2 separate regions of the Homo sapiens genome follow, and region 2 is linked to region 1. The links come from fine-mapping of genetic effects on gene expression. A gene starts in region 1. The other region holds a variant in brackets. All regions are shown on one strand. Distances are from middle to middle.

Region 1 (4,389 bases):
GCTACTCATGAGGCTGAGGTAAGAGAACCACTTGAACCCAGGAGGCAGAGGTTGCAGTGAGCCAAGATCGCACCATTGCACTCCAGCCTCGGTGACAGAGTGAGACTCTGTCACAAAAAAAGAAAAAATTAGCCAGGCAGTGTGGCATGCGCCTGTGGTCCCAGCTACTTGTGAGGCTGGGGCAGGAGGATTGCCTGAGCCCGGAAGGTCAAGGATGCAATGAGCTGTGATCGCACAGTGGCCTGGGCAACAGAGTGAGAAACCCTGTCTCAAAAAAAAGTCTGAGAAGTTGGAAGTTGTAGGGGATTTTGCAGATGAAAGACCATGAGTTTCAGAGACTCACTGTGTTCAAGGAGTCCATATTCACACACTTCAACGTGCCTGTGGATTTTCAGAAAGGATGTAAAACAAACTGTCAACAGCCAGAATGACCAGGCCTCTTCGAGGCCAGAGTCGATGAAATTTAAGACCTGACTCCAGCCTGTGAGTGCGAGAGAAGGAATGACTCTTACACCCTAGTAAGGGGATGCCCATAGCGGGTAGGGAGTCTTCACAGATGCACCCACAGACCCCCTACACTGAGGTCTATGACTCCATGAATTTGGCTGTGTTTTCATTTTTGATAAGCCCCTTTCCACTGCTAGGCCTCAGTTTCCATATATGTGAAGTGAGGAATGCGGACTGTGTTTTCTCTTGGCCTCCTTCCAGCTCTGACAGTCTGTGAATCTCCTGGAAGCCAGCTCTGGGTCCAGTCCTGTCTTGGGGAAATTAGACCAGAAAGGCACAGAGCATACACAAGAACCCAACAGCATCTTCTGACACAAGACCATACTCCCACTGGCACATAGTATCTTTGCTTACCTAATTATATGCATGGACACACAAACACACACATGTACACACCAGGCAAGAAAACTCACAACCGGGTCAGGCGCAGTGGCTTGCGCCTGTAACCACAGCACTTTGGGAGGCCGAGGCGGGTGGATCACCTGAGGTCAGGAGTTCGAGACCAGCCTGGCCAACCTGGTGAAACCCTGTCTCTACTAAAAATACAGAAATAGGCTCGGCGTGGTGGCACACACCTGTAATCCCAGCTACTCAGGAGGCTGAGGCAGGAGAATCACTTGAACCCCGGAGATGGAGGTTGCAGTGAGCCAAGATCACACCACTGCACTCCGGCCTGGGCAACAGAGTGAGACTTTGTCTCGAAAAAACAAAAGAAAACCTGCAACCATTGACACATGCAGCCACCCACACCCTTTCTTGTGGTCACCTCACCGTACTCGGCACCATCACGTCCTAAACACAGTGTCCCATAATCATCATCTCACAAAATCTCAGTCCCAGACTTCTGCCTACCTTGAGCAGATGGGGCAACTGCTGGGTAACCAGCTCTTTGAACTCGTTGACGCTGAGGCTATCCTTCCGGCCCTCCTGCCTTGCAAAGGTGAAGAAGGTGGTGACCACGGTCTCAATGGACTCCTCTAGCTCTGTCAGTGGTTCTGCTGCCATTAGGACCCTGAGGCCAAAGCTGATGTCCTCAAGGGGCTAGCTGACCTTTGTCAGGGCTGACCTGTGGAAGAGAGAAGGAGCAGAGAGGGAGAGTCAGGGAGCCCCAAGATGCAGGAATGGTTCAGAAGGTCCCTGCCTTGGTGTTATCACATCAGTCTCAGCCTGGAGGGGGCATATGGGGAAAGAGGGAGAGGACAGGGGTTGAGCTTGGGGCAGCAGACCAGGCAACGGCATCTCAGTTTTGGTGGGGGCAGGAGATTCAGCTCCAGAAACCCCCTCTTCTGTAGGTCTCACAATCCGGGATCCTTTTTAAATGTCTGTGGCTTAGGGACCCCTCTGTGGTGATCCCTCGATCTGGAGACCCCTCTACTTGAGAGGAGGTCTTCAGTTGAAGGTCCTTCTTGGAGTCCTTCAAGTCTGGTGGCCCCTCTGTGGCGTGTCTGTCTCAAGAATCCCTTCTTGTCTCACCCAGACTCACAGGTCATAAGGTTGTTTGTCTCCAAAGCTTGTTTATGTTGGGCCCTGGTCTCCGGCCACTCGCATCCGCCCACACACACTCTAACCGCTCCTCCCAGCAGAGAAGCACAGGGTCTGGCAAATGTCCCCTGTGGTCAGAGCTGGCTCCGTCTGAACAGACCCATTTTCTCTGCCCCGCTCCACCCTTACCTCTCCTCAGCGGCAGCAGGGCAGAGTGCTGAACCCAGGACCCCACAGATCCTCCCCGCTCCTGTCTCCCGGTGACAAGGGTCCTGGAACGGGGCGTCTCTGACTCCCTGCTCCAGGACGGGTTTAGTACAGGCACTCACAACCCCCTGGGGTGCGGCGGGTGGGGCTGGAAGAGGCATTCTCTTTTCTGTCCACCCCGTCACACACTCCTGCACGCGCTGTTGCTCGATCATCCAAAGCTCCTTCCTGAATTCCTGTCTGAGCTGGCTCTGGGGGAGGGACCTGGGAGCCCAGGAAGAAAAAATGATCTCCAGCCTCCCTCCAGGGTCAGCCATGAGACTCACCCGGCAAGGAGATGGGGTAGAGTGAGCTGGAGCCTCAGGGCTGAGGTTTATAAGCAGCGGGGAAGGAGGAGAGAGCTGCTTCCAAGCCCGGAGGTGTCAAATTTCCGTGGTCGATTCTGAAGACCAGAGACAGCCCAATCAGGCCGCTTGCCCTGAGCCCTCAGGTCTGGACCCGGGCTCCCTGCCAGCCACACGAGCGCCCCCACTTGGTCAGGGAGAGGAGCTGCCTGGACAGATCTCGTTCGGCAGGGGTCCCAGGGTCCTAGTCCTCTCAATACTGGGGGCTGCTGCCACCATACCCATGTCTAATCAGGAGTGTGTATGCTGAGGGGGGAAGAGGGAGGCAACCAATCAAGGGAGCTCAACACTGAGAGGCCCAATCTGAGACACACACAGAGGCCCCTTGGAATGAGATCCCACAAAGGATGCTACAGACCAAGATCCCTCAGAGAACCCCAGGCTGAGGCCCCACACACAGAGGGGGATCCAGGTTGAGACCCCCAGAGAAGAGTCCTGGATTGAAATCCCTCTGTGGGTTCTCAGACTCCCAAGACTAAGTTTCTCACTGAGGGTCCTCTCAGTGAGGCCCCATGGAGGAGCCACAGACTAAGACCCCCTCAGCAGAATTCCCCCCTTACCGGGCTCAACCAGCACAGCCAGCCACAGGTACTGCAAGGCCCAGCTTGGGGTAAGACATCCAGTGTCCCTCCCAGGACCTCCTTCCCACCTCTTTCCCCTGCACCATCCACTGCTGCCTGGAGAGAAAGGAACGGGGCAAGCAAGGCTGGGAAAGAGACAAGGGCCGCCTGTTCCAGCCCAGGAGACAGAGGGCGCCTCTGTCTGCTCCTGGCCCCTTGCCCCACAGGGTGTTCGTCTGTGAAGGGGTGGAGTCGGTGGGGGGGTCAGCGGGGGAGGGACTGTTGAAGACAGGTCTCCACACACAGCTCCAGCAGCCACATTTGCAACCTTGGCCATCTGTCCAGAACCTGCTCCCACCTCAGGCCCAGGCCAACCGTGAGTACCCTGCCCCACTGGGCTAGTCCCTGGCCTGCCAGCTTCAGGGAGAGGGGTCTTCAGAAGGGCTCCAAGAGGCTGGGGACCATAGCACTGTGGAGCACTGAGGATCTGGGAGGAGTCAGTCAGGGTGAGGGCAGTTTGGGATTTGGGGGAGACAGGGTTTGGAAGGTGGTGATGAGAGACAAATGAACTGAAGGTCGGAGAGAGAGCTGGCAGCTCAGCAAAGGAGGAAGCCAGTGGGGAACCCACCATGAGCTTCCTGACCGCCTGGCCCTCCCACAGGGAGCCCTCAAGTCCCTGCCAAGGCCCCCTCTGTCTCCCAGGTGTTGGGAAGGGTCCCAGCCCTCCCCTGCCTCGCCTCCTGTGGGGTAAGAAGAGAGCAGATACAACAGCTGTTTCTGCCCCCACCTCTCCTGCCAGCCTTAGTCTCTGCCACCCCCACCCTGCCTTGCCAAGAGCTCAGGTCCCGGGGGAGTCTGGGGGTGGCAGGGCAAAGCTCCCATGATATGGGGAAGCAGAGATGTAGGGTGCTGTGCCCCTTCCCAACTCGACCTCCACAGGACCTCCCCTTTCTCCTCCTCCCATTTTTGGCCCAGACCTCTTGACTCCTCTTTCCCCCCATTCTTACCTCTTTGTTTCCCCATCTCCCCTGCCCCCAAGTCCTCTCAGAACTGCCACCACGTAAAATCCCAGGCTGCTTTAGGGCTCCAGGTGACCTCCAGCTGCCCCTCTGGCATGGAGCAGGTAATCAAGCTACCAGCACCCCTCCCTCAAGCACCCCTTATCCCCTCATCAGCCACAGCTTGGGTTCCATCTCCCCCATGTCTCTGTGACAACTGCTTCTCAGGTC
Region 2 (4,389 bases), 34 kb before region 1:
CCCAGCACTTTGGGAAGCTGAAGCAGGAGGATCGCTTGAGCCCAGGAATTCGAGGCTGCAGTGAGTTATGATTGTGCCATTGCACTCCAGCCTGGGCAACAGAGCAAAACGCTGTCTCAAAAAAAAAAAAAAAAAAAAAAAAAAGGGCCACCTGTAATCCCACCACTTTGGGAGCCCAAGGAGGGCAAATCACAAGGTCAGGAGATCAAGACCATCCTGGCTAACACGGTGAAACCCTGTCTCTACTAAAATTAGCCGGGTGTGGTGGCAGGCGCCTGTAGTCCCACCTACTCAGGAGGCTGAGGCAGGAGAATGGCATAAACCTGGGAGGTGGAGCTTGCAGTGAGCTGCCATCACGCCACTGCATTCCAGCCTAGGCGACAGAGCGAGACTCCATCTCAAAAAAAAAAAAAAAAGTTTGCAATATTATACAGATTATGTTTTTCTGACTGCAATGCAACAAAATTTTTAAATTAATAGATAATAACGGCCAAGTGCGGTGGCTCACGCCTGTAATCTCAGCACTTTGATAGGCCGAGGCTGGCAGATCACCTGAGGTCAGAAGTTCAAGACCAGCCTGGCCAACATGGTGAAACCCTGTCTCTACTAAATATACAAAAAATTAGCTGGGCATGGTGGTGAGCGCCAGTAATCCCAGCTACTCAGGAGGCTGAGGCAAGAGAATCGCTTGAACCTGGGAGGCAGAGGTAGCAGTGAGCCAAGATCGAGCCATTGCACTCCAGCCTGGGCAACAGGGCAAGAGTCCGTCTCAAACAAACAAAAATAGATAATAAAATAGTTTTAAAATAAATCACCCAAAAAACTGAAAACAGCCCAATGTCCATCAATAGGACTATAGATAAATAGGGTATTTTCATACAATGAAATATGATAGAGTAGTAAAAATGAATGAACTCCATCAATATAAATCTTAAAATAAATCTCTTATTTTATCTGGGCACGGTGGCTGACACCTGTAATCCCAGCACTTTGGGAGGCCAAGGTGGGTGGATCACCTGAGGTCAGGAGTTCAAGACCAGCCTAACCAACATGGAGAAACCCCGTCTCTACTAAAAATACAAAATTAGCTGGGCGTGGTGGTGCAGGCCTGTAATCCCAGCTACTCAGGAGGCTTAGGCAGGAGAATCGCTTGAACCTAGGAGGCAGAGGTTGCAGTGAGCCCAGATTGAGCCATTGCGCTCCAGCCTAGGCAACGAGAGTGAAACTCCATCTCAAATAAATAAATAAATAAGTAAAATCTTATTTTAAACAAGAGAGGAAGTTGCAGAAGAATTTATATGCTATGATACCATTTATGTAAAGTGCAAAAACATGCAATACTAAATAAAATATTGTTTAAAAATTAGCTGGGCGTGGTGGCGGGCGCCTGTAATCCCAGCTACTTGGGAGGCTAAGGCAGGAGAATCACTTCAACCTGGGAGGCAGAGGTTGCAGTGAGCCGAGATTGTGCCACTGCACTCCAGCCTGGGCAACACAACAAGACTCCATCTCAATAATAATAATAATAATAATATATTGTTTAGAAATTTGTACACATGTGATCAAAAAATTTTTCAATCAAGGGGATCATAAATACACAGTTCAGGATAGTGACTACAGCTGTGGAAAGTGCAAGTACAATACGGAAGTGTACACAGAGGCCTTTAACTGGATCTGTAAGTTTTAGTTATTTATTTAAAGCAATCTAACTCAAATATAGAAAAATGTCCAACTTCAACAAAGCTTATGATTAGATATTGTGTTATTTTCTGTACTTTTCTGTACCTTTGAAATACTTCATCATTAGAACAATAGGAAAAGAAAAAGAATCTTTAAAAAGGAAGAGCATCCATGAACAGAAAGCAAGCTGTGTATCAGGGAGGAGAGTCCAGTTCCCCTGAGATTTTCCCATGAAACACACAATGTCAGCAAACAGTAGAGAGAAGGTTACAGGGCTCAGAGAGAAAGGGTGACCCAAGAATTGTATTCCCTGCCAAGCTGCAACAGACTCGAGTTGAAAGAAACAACTCAGGGAATACATAAAACAAGGGCCCTTTGAAATTCAACCAACCAAATAATAAATCACATTAAGGATGCAGGAATTAAGAAACCAAGCTAAACGCTCTGTCTGTGAGCATCGCATTCAGAGAACTGAAGCTAAACTTACATGGAAATCACGGTTACAAGACAGAATGTAAATACTGTATACATAATATAACTATCAGATAGTGCTACTCTGGGGTAC[A/G]GGAAATGGAAGTGTAAATGTATTATTTTCCTCATCCCCCTGGAAGAATTCGTAAGTCACCGTCTAAAATGAAAACGTGTAGTAAGGGCCGGGCAAAGTGGCTCATGCTTGTAATCCCAGCACTTTGGGAGGCCGAGGTGAGCAGATCACCTGAGCTCAGGAGTTTGAGACCAGCCTGGCCAACATGGTGAAATCCTGTCTCTACTAAAAGTATTTTAAAAAAAATTAGCTGGGCATGTATTAGCTGGGCATGTATTAGCAGACACGTGTAATCCCAGCTACTCAGGAGGCTGAGGCAAGAGGATTGCTTGAACCCGGGAGGCAGAGGTTGCAGTGAGCCGAGATCGGGCCACTGCACTCCAGCCTGAGCGACAGACTCCATCTCAAGAGAAAAAAAAAATTACCTGAAGTTCAATATTTTGTTCATTTTCCCTTTGGCTAACTACAAGTAAAATAATTTAAATTGTACTTTTTTGATAAATAACATTTATTATGATCTACTTTCATAACTTTTTTTTTTCCAGGATGGAGTCTTGCTCTGTCACCCAGGCTGGAGTGCAGTGGCATGATCTCGGCTCACTGCAACCTCCGCCTCCCAGGTTCAAGCAATTCTCCTGCCTCAGCCTCCAGAGTAGCTGGAATTACAGGCATGCCCACCACACCCAGCTAATTTTTGTTTTAGTAGAGACGGGATTTCACCATGTTGGCGAAGCTGGTCTTGAACTCCTGACCTCAAGTGATCCATCCACCTCGGCCTCCCAAAGTGCTGGGATTACAGTCGTAAGCCACTGCACCCAGCCTGAAGCACATTTTTAAAGAATGATTCTGGCTGCTATATGAGTATATAAGGTGAGTATGTTCCTATAAAGGAACAAGGGGAGATGCTTGGAATGTCTAAGTAAGAGACAACCATGATTCTGATCAATATGGTAGCAGTAGAAGTGGAAAGAGGGATTAATTCTGGATATGTTTTGAAGATGGAACTAGCAGGATTTCAAAACAGACAAGATGTGGGATGCGAAATATAGAAAGGAAGAATGAATGGCTCCATGCTGACAACAGAGCTGCCAGCGAACCAGAGCACGAAGAGCAGGTTGAGGACAAAAGGGGCATATGGAGTCTGCATTTGGACGTGCCTTTTGGACAGACCCTCTTCTCACTCCATGCTTGCCATGGGCAAGCTCATCCGTGCCCAGTACTTAGGTTACCATCTAAATGTTTCTGACTCCCAAATTGCCAATCCAGCCCTCCCCCATGAACTCTAGATGTGGATATCCAACTATCCTTTTTTTTTTTTTTTGAGATGGAGTCTCACTCTGTCATCCAGGCTGGAGTGCAGTGGCGTGATCTCAGCTCACTGCAACCTCTGCCTCCTGGGTTCAAGCAATTTTCCCACCCCAACCTCCCGAGTAGCTGGGATTACTGGTGCATGCTTAGTAGAGATGTGGTTTCACCATGTTGCCAAGGCTGGTTTCAAACTCCTGGCCTCAAGTGATCCACCTGCCTCAGCCTCTCAAATTGCTGGGATTACAGGCATGAGCCACCGCACCTGCCGTGCACCCCCCAACTACCATTTTGTCATCACCACATCACTATCCCAAAGGGATGTCTGAAACTAAACTTGCAGTGTCCACATGTCCTCCTTCCCCACTCACTCTGAAAAAGGGTTCTGGGCCTTTCCCAGCATTGCCTGTATCAATGAATGGCACTACCATTCTGGCTGCACAAGCCAGATATATGGAAGTTGCCTGGACACCTTCCTCTCTCTGGTCCATCAGATTCAGTTCATAAGCAAGGCCTGACTTTTTTACCCCTTACATTTCTCCCAAATCCATCCCATTGTTACATCTCTCCACCAGCCCCATTCCTCAGGACTCACTGTCCTCTTTCTTGCTTTGTTTTTCTCCATATGCCATATGATTTTCTTGTCTGCTTACTGATTGTATATCTCCACCCGAGTGGACTGAGTTCTGTGACGGCAGAGACAGAACAGTGCCTGAGGCTGGGAGTGGTGGCCCATGCCTGTAGTCCCAGCACTTTGGGAGACCGAGATGGGCAGATCACTTGAGCCCAGGAGTTCAAGACCAGCCTGGGAAACATGGCAAAACCCTGTCTCTACAAAAAAATAGTAAAAAATAAAAATT

What was found. PIP is the estimated chance that this variant, and not a neighbour inherited with it, causes the effect. A credible set is the group of variants that fine-mapping cannot tell apart.
Region 2: its variant is the best candidate, but not a certain one, in a credible set for the expression of S100A13 in adrenal gland (GTEx, PIP 0.59).

What each region holds. Positions count from the first base shown.
Region 1 is chr1:153,624,961-153,629,349 of GRCh38, forward strand. S100A13 (S100 calcium binding protein A13) reads right to left here and starts at 2,545. Exons shown (of 3, transcript NM_001024211.2): 1 at 2,523-2,545; 2 at 1,360-1,573. The coding sequence starts at 1,512. S100A1 (S100 calcium binding protein A1) reads left to right here and starts at 3,474. Exons shown (of 3, transcript NM_006271.2): 1 at 3,474-3,536. RefSeq lists enhancers at 1,967-2,792, 3,619-4,389.
Region 2 is chr1:153,590,915-153,595,303 of GRCh38, forward strand. No RefSeq gene overlaps it. Among named protein-coding and RNA genes, the nearest start is that of S100A16, 20 kb to the right of the region's middle. The variant A/G (reference allele first, on the strand shown) is at 2,246.